Linked DNA regions of Homo sapiens: region 2 is linked to region 1. The links come from fine-mapping of genetic effects on gene expression. A gene starts in region 1. The other region holds a variant in brackets. All regions are shown on one strand. Distances are from middle to middle. Region 1 holds the start of RNF38 (ring finger protein 38). Region 2 overlaps LOC102724322 (a long non-coding RNA gene).

Region 1 (4,392 bases):
TTCATAGGGACCTAATACCTCTTTCCAGCTTCTCTTTGTTTGTCCTGGAATTCCAAAACCTATGATGTTATTGCTGGAACTTTGATTCAGCAGTTGCTAAACACCTTCTCTTGTGTTTCTGGCACTAGACTTGGGCCTTGGGTTTAGTTTACACAGTCCCAACAGAGTCTGGGTGCTCAGTCTGATATGGGAGACAAGTGTACATAAATAATTACCATATAGTGTTGTTCATAAAGAGAATGTCCAAGGTCCAGAAGGTCCTGAAACAACATTTACTCTGATTTCCCCCATTTTCTACTGGTTGCAGCTGAGGCCCAGAGAGGGAAAGAGAGACTGGTTTAAGTAATGCCAAAAGAACTAGAACTTGAAAACCCGAGTTTTCTGTTGACTGGTCCTTAATAATTTTACTCTACCACCCTAAAATATGATCACCATCCTTGCGGGAAACATCTAATTTCTGCTTTAAAAAGTCCACCCCTTCCATGATGTCCTCTTGACTGCCCTCTCTCCTTAAGTCTGATACCACTTTACTATTTTTTCCTTGTATGGATTGTGCTTTTGTGGAAATTTTTATTTTCTCTCTTGTATCGTGATTATCAGGACAGGAGCCAAGCCGGCTTCAATCTTTGTTCTTATTTCCCCTCCCCAAGCGACATCTGAGCAACTGTCACACTTAAGGAAGCCTCGGACAAGTTGGGTTCGAACCTGTTGGCTTGCTGCATTGAGAGACACCTTTGTGTACTGCAATAAAAATTCTTACTTTTCGGGCCACGTGAATGCATTTATGCTGTAAGAACTACGTGAGGTCAGTTACTGTTTGATTGCGGAGTTTTGTAGGTAGGAGGCACGGAACAGTAGCAACAATTTACTAAGAGAAAATCTATAGGAATTGGAACAGGGCCCTGCGGTCCGCAGGGCAGCGGGGGGCGGGCTGGGGCGGGGCTGCGCAGTGGTGCTGCGCGCGGAGCTCTGTTGCCGGAACTGGTCCGAGTCGTGCGCCGGGCCGCGCGCAGCCCCGCCCCGCCCCGCCCCGCCCCCTTCCCCCTCGGGGTGGAAACAAAGGGGGTTCGGCGCGCGGTGCGGAGCCTGGGGGAAAAGGGAGGAGCGCTCCGGTGGTCTGGCGCGCTGGGCTCGCTAGGTTTGTGCTGGCGAGGGGACGGGGTGGGACGGGCGACCCGGACCCAAGAAGTGGGAGGACCGCGCGTGTCGCGGCCTAGCGGCGAGGGGAGTCGCCTGCGCGCGCAGCGGAGGCCAGTGCGCCGGCGCATAGGGAGCCCGGGTCTGTGATCGCCGAGGCGGGGTGAGGCGGGGTGCGGCGGGGCGCGGCGGGGCGGGGAGGGGCGTGGCCGGGCCGGGCCCCTAGTGCGGTGTTGCGGGACGGGGCCGAGGCCCGGTCGGTTGGGGCGTGGGGGCGGAGAGGATGGAGCCTCCGAGGCGTTAGGCGACTCTGTCATCTCTGGGCGTGCAGCCGTCGTTTCCTGGCGCGGCCCGTGTGATGGTGCCGGGAGGAAGGAAGCGCAGTGACAGTGCCTAAGTTGGAGCCGGGGTTCCGGGGGTGAGGAGGCCCGCGGACGGCGGATCTGGCGAGCTGGCCGCGGGCTGGGCGAGCAGTCACAATAGGAGGCGGCGGCCCAGCGAGGATCCGCGGGAGCTGCCCGGCAGGGCGGAGCCTCCCCTCGCAGGTACTGGCCGCCGCGGCCGTTGGCTGCAGCGCGAGGGCGGGACGGGCTGCGGGCCGTTGAGAGCCTGCGGGGCCGCGCCCGAGTCTTGGGCTAAGGTTTGCCTCGGCCGCCCGGCGCTCTTTGTTCCCGCGGTGGCGAGGAGGCGCGGTCTCAGCTCGCGGAGCCGCCGGCCCGCTGCCCGGCAGATGGCCTCGCTCTCTCGCTCCCTCCCTTTTTGCCGAGACGCAGGTGAAATGATGTCACCCAGGAGAACGCGGAACCCGGTCGAAAGGGTCCTCTCTGGCGTCCTTCTGCTTCCGTGGGTTTCTGGATAGGCTGCGTTTTGTTCTCAGGGGATGCAAGTTCTTCCTTTCAGGGTTGAAGCGTGAGAGAGGTTGGTTTTTGAAACGGGAGTGTTTCAGGTTATTGAGGTCCAAAAAGAAATAAAGTTTTTGTTTACGTCTGTATGGCTTGTAAGGTAAAGTATTTTTCTTTGTGTTGCAAAAATGATATATGCTATTATTCAGTAAAAGTTGGGTATGCTAATTCTACCGTAAGTAGAAACACACACATGTAATTATTGCCACCATTATATGAATTGCCATTTCTTTTTTCTTAAGCGGTGGACTTAACGTATGAAAACTTAAATGTATACAAAGCTCATAATACAGTTGTTACCTTAGAGTTGCAAGTCTGCTGTATTCTGTTTGGCCTTGATTGCGAGTGTTGTTATACTTGAAAATTTACCGTAAATTTTTTTCAATAGCAAACAAACCTTGTATGTAGGCTTTAAAAAAAATTCCCTTTTATAGGGACAGTTGGAATCGAAGTAAAATTGTTCCTATCTTCAGGGAACACCGTCTAATGGAAGAAATAGAACTTTTGTAGAGATAATACGAAACCACATACATATAGATGTCAGATCAGGTGTGGGAAGCTGGGACACACTTGGAATAAAAAGATGAAATTTCTGACTGGAAGTTTACCTGGGAATTGTGTCACTTCAGATACTCCTTTCTCTGGGGTTTATAAATATATATTTATAATATATTTATTTATAATATGGTATTATATAATATATTATATATATTTATAATATGGTATATTTCACCTTTTGCAAACCTGCTAATCATACATTGTTCATTCAATTTTAAGTTGATTTTTATGATATTTCTGTAAGACTTATTTCTAAGAGATTTGAAGGCCTTAGCGCCTATAGTTGAATAAGTTCTGCCACAGACTCGTCATGTGGGCCTCAGGCTCTCATCTGTAAAATATAAAAAAAGTTGGACTTAAATAATCTGTGGGTTTTCCACCTCTGACTTCGTCTGTGATTCTAGAAGGTAGTTCGTATTTCCATACTTGTTGGGCTTTATATGCCCATCTTGTTTTTATAGTTAAATTGTCAAGTATTACTCTGGGTGAATATTGAGGAGAATTTTCTCTACTAAAATAACCTAATTTTTGATGAAGAGTAAACAAGATGGCATAGTCAGACATAACTGACTGTTAGCATCATAATGTAGAGTGTAGATCTGTTGTCTCTCTGCCAACAGCATTGGATGAGGCTTTTAATTCATGTTACATTCCTAGGCTGTTTCTGTTTGTGCTCACTTTCTTTTTTTGAGGCTGTGAGTGGAAAGTGTGGGTGAGAAATTCTTATGATAAAAGTTTCTGAAATGATTAGGTACTTGCTCAGTATGGAAAGATTATTGGTCAAGATTATGTCTTCTAGTTTATTCCACCTATTTCTCTGTACTACCTCTAGTTTGGTTTAGGCCACCACCATTTTGTAATTCATCTTGCTGGAAAGGTAGTTCTTAATTAGTCTTGATTGTTGCGTTGTGTTTGTTTTGGTTTTCCTGCTAAGAAAACATGTCAGACAGTTTTCACTTCCATTTTACTCTACTTAACTCACAGCCTTTTCTCTGGAAAGAGCGAACAGATTGTAAACATGGATTTGAACAGTATAGTTCTTGTCTAGTTCATCAGCAAACGTTAATTAATACGACGTTATCTAGAGGAGATAAAGCATTAATACTTGAACTCTATATAGTAAATTAATGAGAGAAATTTAGAATAAACAGATGAAGAAGAGGGGTCATGTACACAGTCTCTTCCCAACTCTTACATCTTTCATTAAAAAAATTTTTTTTTAATTTTAGTTTTTCCAGAAACGGGTTTTGCTATGTTGTCCCTTCTGGACTCGAACTTCTGGGCCCAGGTGATCCTCCTTTCTTGGCCTCCTGAGTAACTAGGACTACAGGTGTTTGCCATGGAGCCTGCCTGCCTTAGATCTTTCCCTTTGTTAAGGATCTGAACTTTTCACCTCTTCTATCTAGGTTATGGAGCCCTATTATCTTCTTGTAGTTCCTGTTATTAATTGTCCCTCACTAGACTGAGTTGCTTTAAGGGTAAGGACTGTTTCTTTTTCCCATTTTGTAGTCACAGCATCCAGCATATGGCAGGCAAGCAATAATTATTTGAATTATGATTGTTATTTAATAAAATTATAACTCAATCATACCTCTTTTTTCCAACTATTGTAAAACCCACAATTATTGTGTAAGTAATTATATGTGTGTGCGCCGTGTGTGTGTTTGGAGAGAGGGAGAGGGAGAGAGTGTATAAAATTTTTTATTGGTTTGGACTTTTGTGGTCTAGATATTTTTTCACATCTGTGTAATTCTTTGTGGTAACCAACCTAAGTAAAACGATTTTAGACATACTT
Region 2 (4,392 bases), 81 kb after region 1:
GTCTGGAATGGTATTGCCTAGGTTGTGTTCCAGGGTTTTTATAGTTTTGGGTTTTATGTTTAAGTTTTTAATCCATCTTGAGTTAATTTTTGTATATGATATAAGGAAGGGGTCTGGTTTCAATCTTGTGCATATGGCTAGCCAGTTATCCCAGCACCACTTTGAACAGGGAGTCCTTTCCCCATTGCTTGTTTTTGTCAGGTTTGTCAAAGATCAGATGGTTGTAGGTGCGTGGCCTTATTTCTAGGCTATCCTGTGCCATTGGTCTATGTGTCAGTTTTTGTACCAGTACCATGCTGTTTTGGTTACTGCTGCTCTATAGTATAGTTTGAAGTCAGGTGGCATGATGAGAGGCATTGTTTATAATATTAATACTAGCACAGGAGCTCACACATGGGTGTGATGTGTATTGCATGCACACTCACACAACAACCTAATGTCCATCAGTGAAAGCCAGTTAAATAAGTGATGATATAGTTATGTGACTGGACATTAAGATGGGATTATTTCTGTCTCCAATTCAGCTGAGACCTCAAAGTCTGAGAATACATAAAAGATGCATAGTTCCCCTGCATCCCAAGGGAGGGGCTGGATCACACATGCAGAACACACTAAGATATTATGAAACCAGGTCTGCTGGCATTAGCGTTCACCCCATCCTACCCATCAAAGGACAGAAGGGTTGATGAGTCAGTGGAGTGCTGAGGCCTCCCCAGCCCTCCCCACCACACCCCTGGGGAGGTGGGAGGACCTGCCTGGGAGGTGGAGTGGCAGGAGGGAGCAGGCTGGGGGGCACTGCCCAGAAGCTGCCCTCCCACTGCCCAGTGCTTAGTGCCAGTGCTCCCGGACCACACCGAGGGACGAGCTGCTTATTCTCGTGGCCCCATATCAAGATGCAGATAAACTGGGAAAGAAGAGAATTTCTATTTCTGTAACCAGGTGCAGGGAGAAGGCCTGGAAATTATCGCCAGACCAACTCAAAATTTCAAAGTATTCCAGAGCTTATATACCTTCTAAGCTCTATGTGTACGTGTAAGTGTGCATTTATCTAAAGACATAAGTGATTAACTTCTAATCTATAACTAAGGTCTGAGTCCTGAAGACCTTCCTCTGGAGCCTCAGTAAATTGACTTAATCTAAATGGGTCCAGGTGCTGCAGTGATTACCCTTATCTTGTCTCCTACTAAATCACAGAGGTTTGGGGAGTTCCTTCCAACCTCCAATAAACTTGTTCGTGGAGGCCTGGGGAGTTTCTTCAGACCCCCCAATAAAACTTGTTTGTTTAATCCTAAACAGGTTTTGTTAAGAATGCCTTCGTTATTTTGTCATGCTTTAAGGCCCAGGAAAGGCCTAGGCGAAACTCTGGGTGGGGTTTTGTTACATTCCAGCTTTTGTGTAAGGACACTGGCTCTACCAGCTTTTAATATTTAACTTCACCAGTCAGTACTGAAATAGTTGTTACGGAGGCCCGCGTTCCTGAGGCCTGGCCTGCCATACCAGGAGGTTGAAAGGAGTGGAAGAGGAACTCTGATATTTGGATTCAAATACTTCTATATTGTCCAACATAAACATGTTCATATGTTACCAAAAAAAAAGGAAAATAAAGGAGTAAAAAAGCATGTACAATGAGCACCTAATAATTAATAGTTTGTTCTAGGGAGCAGCCCTGGGAAAGCATTTCCAGCAATTTCAGATTTTTGTTATGTTTGAATTTTTTTACAATATGCATGTTTTATTTGTAGAAGCAGAAAATAATATCCAAATATAGCATTTTAGAAATAATTATAAAAAGCTACCAGAAGGCCCAGCTCTTCACCCCTCTCCTCCTCCTCCCTCCATTAAACACAGAACTCAGCCCAGCAGGGTAGGGCTGCAGCCCATGGCAGCACTGGGAGAACGCTTCCTTTCTCTGGCTGCCCACACCCAGGATGGGACTTCCAAGCAGGACAGGGAACAGGTCCCTGTTCAGGTCCAGGGATCAGCTGGGACGCCAGCGCCTTGAACCTGACTTCCCCAGGCCAGGACTCAGCCCCCTCCTTGGAACCCCATTGCTCCCCGGACTCTCCCCATCTCAGCCTCTCCCACACTCCACCCGTCTGCCGGCCTGCACCCCAGCTCTGTCCCCTCCTCTCCATCCCCAGTCCACTCACCTTCAGCTGGTAGTGAGCTTTCCCATGAGGAAACTGAGGCACGCTGGGAAAAGGGAGCTACTCCAGGTCAAGCAGCAGCTTAGCAACAGGGCTGGGACCCAGGCTTCCCAGTAGCCGCTATGGTGTGCTTTAAGTAACACCACACACCTGCACAGCTGAGGTGCGCCGCACCTC[C/G]CCCTCACTATACTCCTTCATTCCAGATTGAAATGTGCACCATGCTCAGGCAAAAACAAACAAACAAACAAACAAACCAGGCTTTTCTCACAAAATCAAATCAGAAGGTAAGATGTGTGTGGCAGAAACAAGTTTCTTAACTTCCCGAAACCTTATTTTCCTCATGTGGAAAGTGAGTTGAAGAGCTCCTGCCTCATGGCATCGCGGGGGATCTAATGAAACGATGTGGTGCAGCTGGTGCCTCATAACTGGCAGCTGTGGTTTGTTTCTCCCAAAACCCGCCACTCTGGCCCCCAGCCATTCAGGAGCTGTTTTAGGTGGCATTCATTTGGGTGGTGGGGAGCAATGGAACTTTTTCTTTTTTCTGAGACGGGGTCTTGCTGTCGCCCAGGCTGGAGTGCAGTGACGCAATCTCATCTCACTGTAACCTCCTGCTCCCTGTAACCTCTGCCTCCCAGGCTCAAACGATCCTCCCACCTCAGCCTCTCAAGTAGCTGGGACTAGGTGCACACCACCACGCCCAGCTAATATTTGTATTTTTTGGAGGGACGGGGTTTCGCCATCTTGCCCAGTCTGGACTCGAACTTTTGGGCTCAAGCAATCCTCCTGTCTCAGCCTCCCACAGTGCTGGGATTACAGGTGTGAACCACCACGCCCCGTCCCAACGGAACTTTTTCTTCCTCATCCAACAACGTATATATTTGCTCTTCAGTGAGTAAACAGTTGTCCTTTTTTTTTTTTTTTTTAGCAGCACTGGATTCTAGGAAAAATGAAAAATGAAGTGCATGCTTCACTTACTATGCCCCTGTGTAATAAACATCAGCTTTACCGAAGAAGAAACCTGAGGCTGTGTCCACACTGCAGTTATCTTCCTACACTCTCCATTTCTCCTTATTCTACAGATTGGCTGGGGGAAACTGAAGGATATATTCCTGGTGCAGTAAACCTGATGGTCAAACCTTCCCGGAGCTCCAGGGCAGCCAGCTGCTAGGAAGCCTCTCCCCTCTGGCCCACACCCTTCCTGTTGGCTCCTGGCCACACCAACCCATCACCTGGGAGGATGCTGGAGAAACGGGGTTGCCCCAAGAGTCCACGTGTCCTTGACGCATGGCCAGACTCAACAATGGGCTTCTTAATGAAACTGGGAAACTGCAGAGTTCAAGTGGGGGTTGGGTGCTGAACCGTGGCTCATTCCCTCAGGGATCAAATATCAGCAGAGTCATCAGGTAAAGGCCACCAAGTTCACCTTCACCTTCCTGAGGAAAAGACGTTTGGGGTCTCAGCTTTCTTCAGCAGGCAGGGCAGCTCTCCAGCACATGATAGAAGCAGGCTGCGAGTTAGATGGCAGACAGAGGCCGGACACGGTGGCTCACGCCTGTCATCCTAGCACTTTGGGATTATAGGCCAAAGGATCGCTTGAGGCCAGGAGTTTGAGACCAGCCTAGGCAACACAGTGAGATCCCAGCCTCTGTAAAAAATTAGCTCTGCGAGGCCAGGCGCAGTAGCTCACGCCTGTAATCCCAGCACTTTGGGAGGCCCAGGTGGGTGGATCACCTGAGGTCAGGAGTTCGAGACCAGCCTGACCAACATGGAGAAACCCCATCTCTACTAAAAATACAAAATAAGCTGGCCATGGTGGCACATGCGTGTAATCCCAGCTACTCAGGCTGAGGCAGGAGAATTGCTTGAACCCGGAAAGCAGAGGTTGCAGTTAGCCGAGATGGCACCATTGCACCCCAGCCTGGGCAACAAGAGGGAAACTCCATCTCAAAAAAAAAAAAACAAAAAACCGGAGCTCTGCGTGGTGGTGCATGCCTGTAGTCCCAGCTACTCAGGAGGCTGAGGTGGGAGGATCACTTGCAAAGCCGAGTTCCAGGCTGCATTGAGCTGTGATTGCACCACTGCACTCCAGCCTGGGCAACAGAGAGAGACACCGTCTCTTCAAAAAAGCTGACATCTGCTGAGTCTGTCAGGGGCTCGCAGATGTGGGTGGAGGGGGCTCAGATTCCCTGTGCCTGGGTGCTGGGGCCGGAGTGGGAGTATTAGCCATGGCCTTTTGTTCTCAATA

What was found. PIP is the estimated chance that this variant, and not a neighbour inherited with it, causes the effect. A credible set is the group of variants that fine-mapping cannot tell apart.
Region 2: its variant is the best candidate, but not a certain one, in a credible set for the expression of RNF38 in whole blood (TOPMed, PIP 0.74).

What each region holds. Positions count from the first base shown.
Region 1 is chr9:36,397,844-36,402,235 of GRCh38, reverse strand. RNF38 (ring finger protein 38) reads left to right here and starts at 1,967. Exons shown (of 12, transcript NM_022781.5): 1 at 1,967-2,139. The coding sequence starts at 2,128. It overlaps LOC124902152 (a long non-coding RNA gene), which reads left to right. Exons shown (of 2, transcript XR_007061475.1): 1 at 1-342; 2 at 651-771. RefSeq lists silencers at 908-1,367, 1,398-1,727 and an enhancer at 1,938-2,007.
Region 2 is chr9:36,316,985-36,321,376 of GRCh38, reverse strand. LOC102724322 (a long non-coding RNA gene) reads right to left here. Exons shown (of 5, transcript XR_001746660.2): 5 at 2,912-3,580. Among named protein-coding and RNA genes, the nearest start is that of GNE, 61 kb to the right of the region's middle. The variant C/G (reference allele first, on the strand shown) is at 2,325.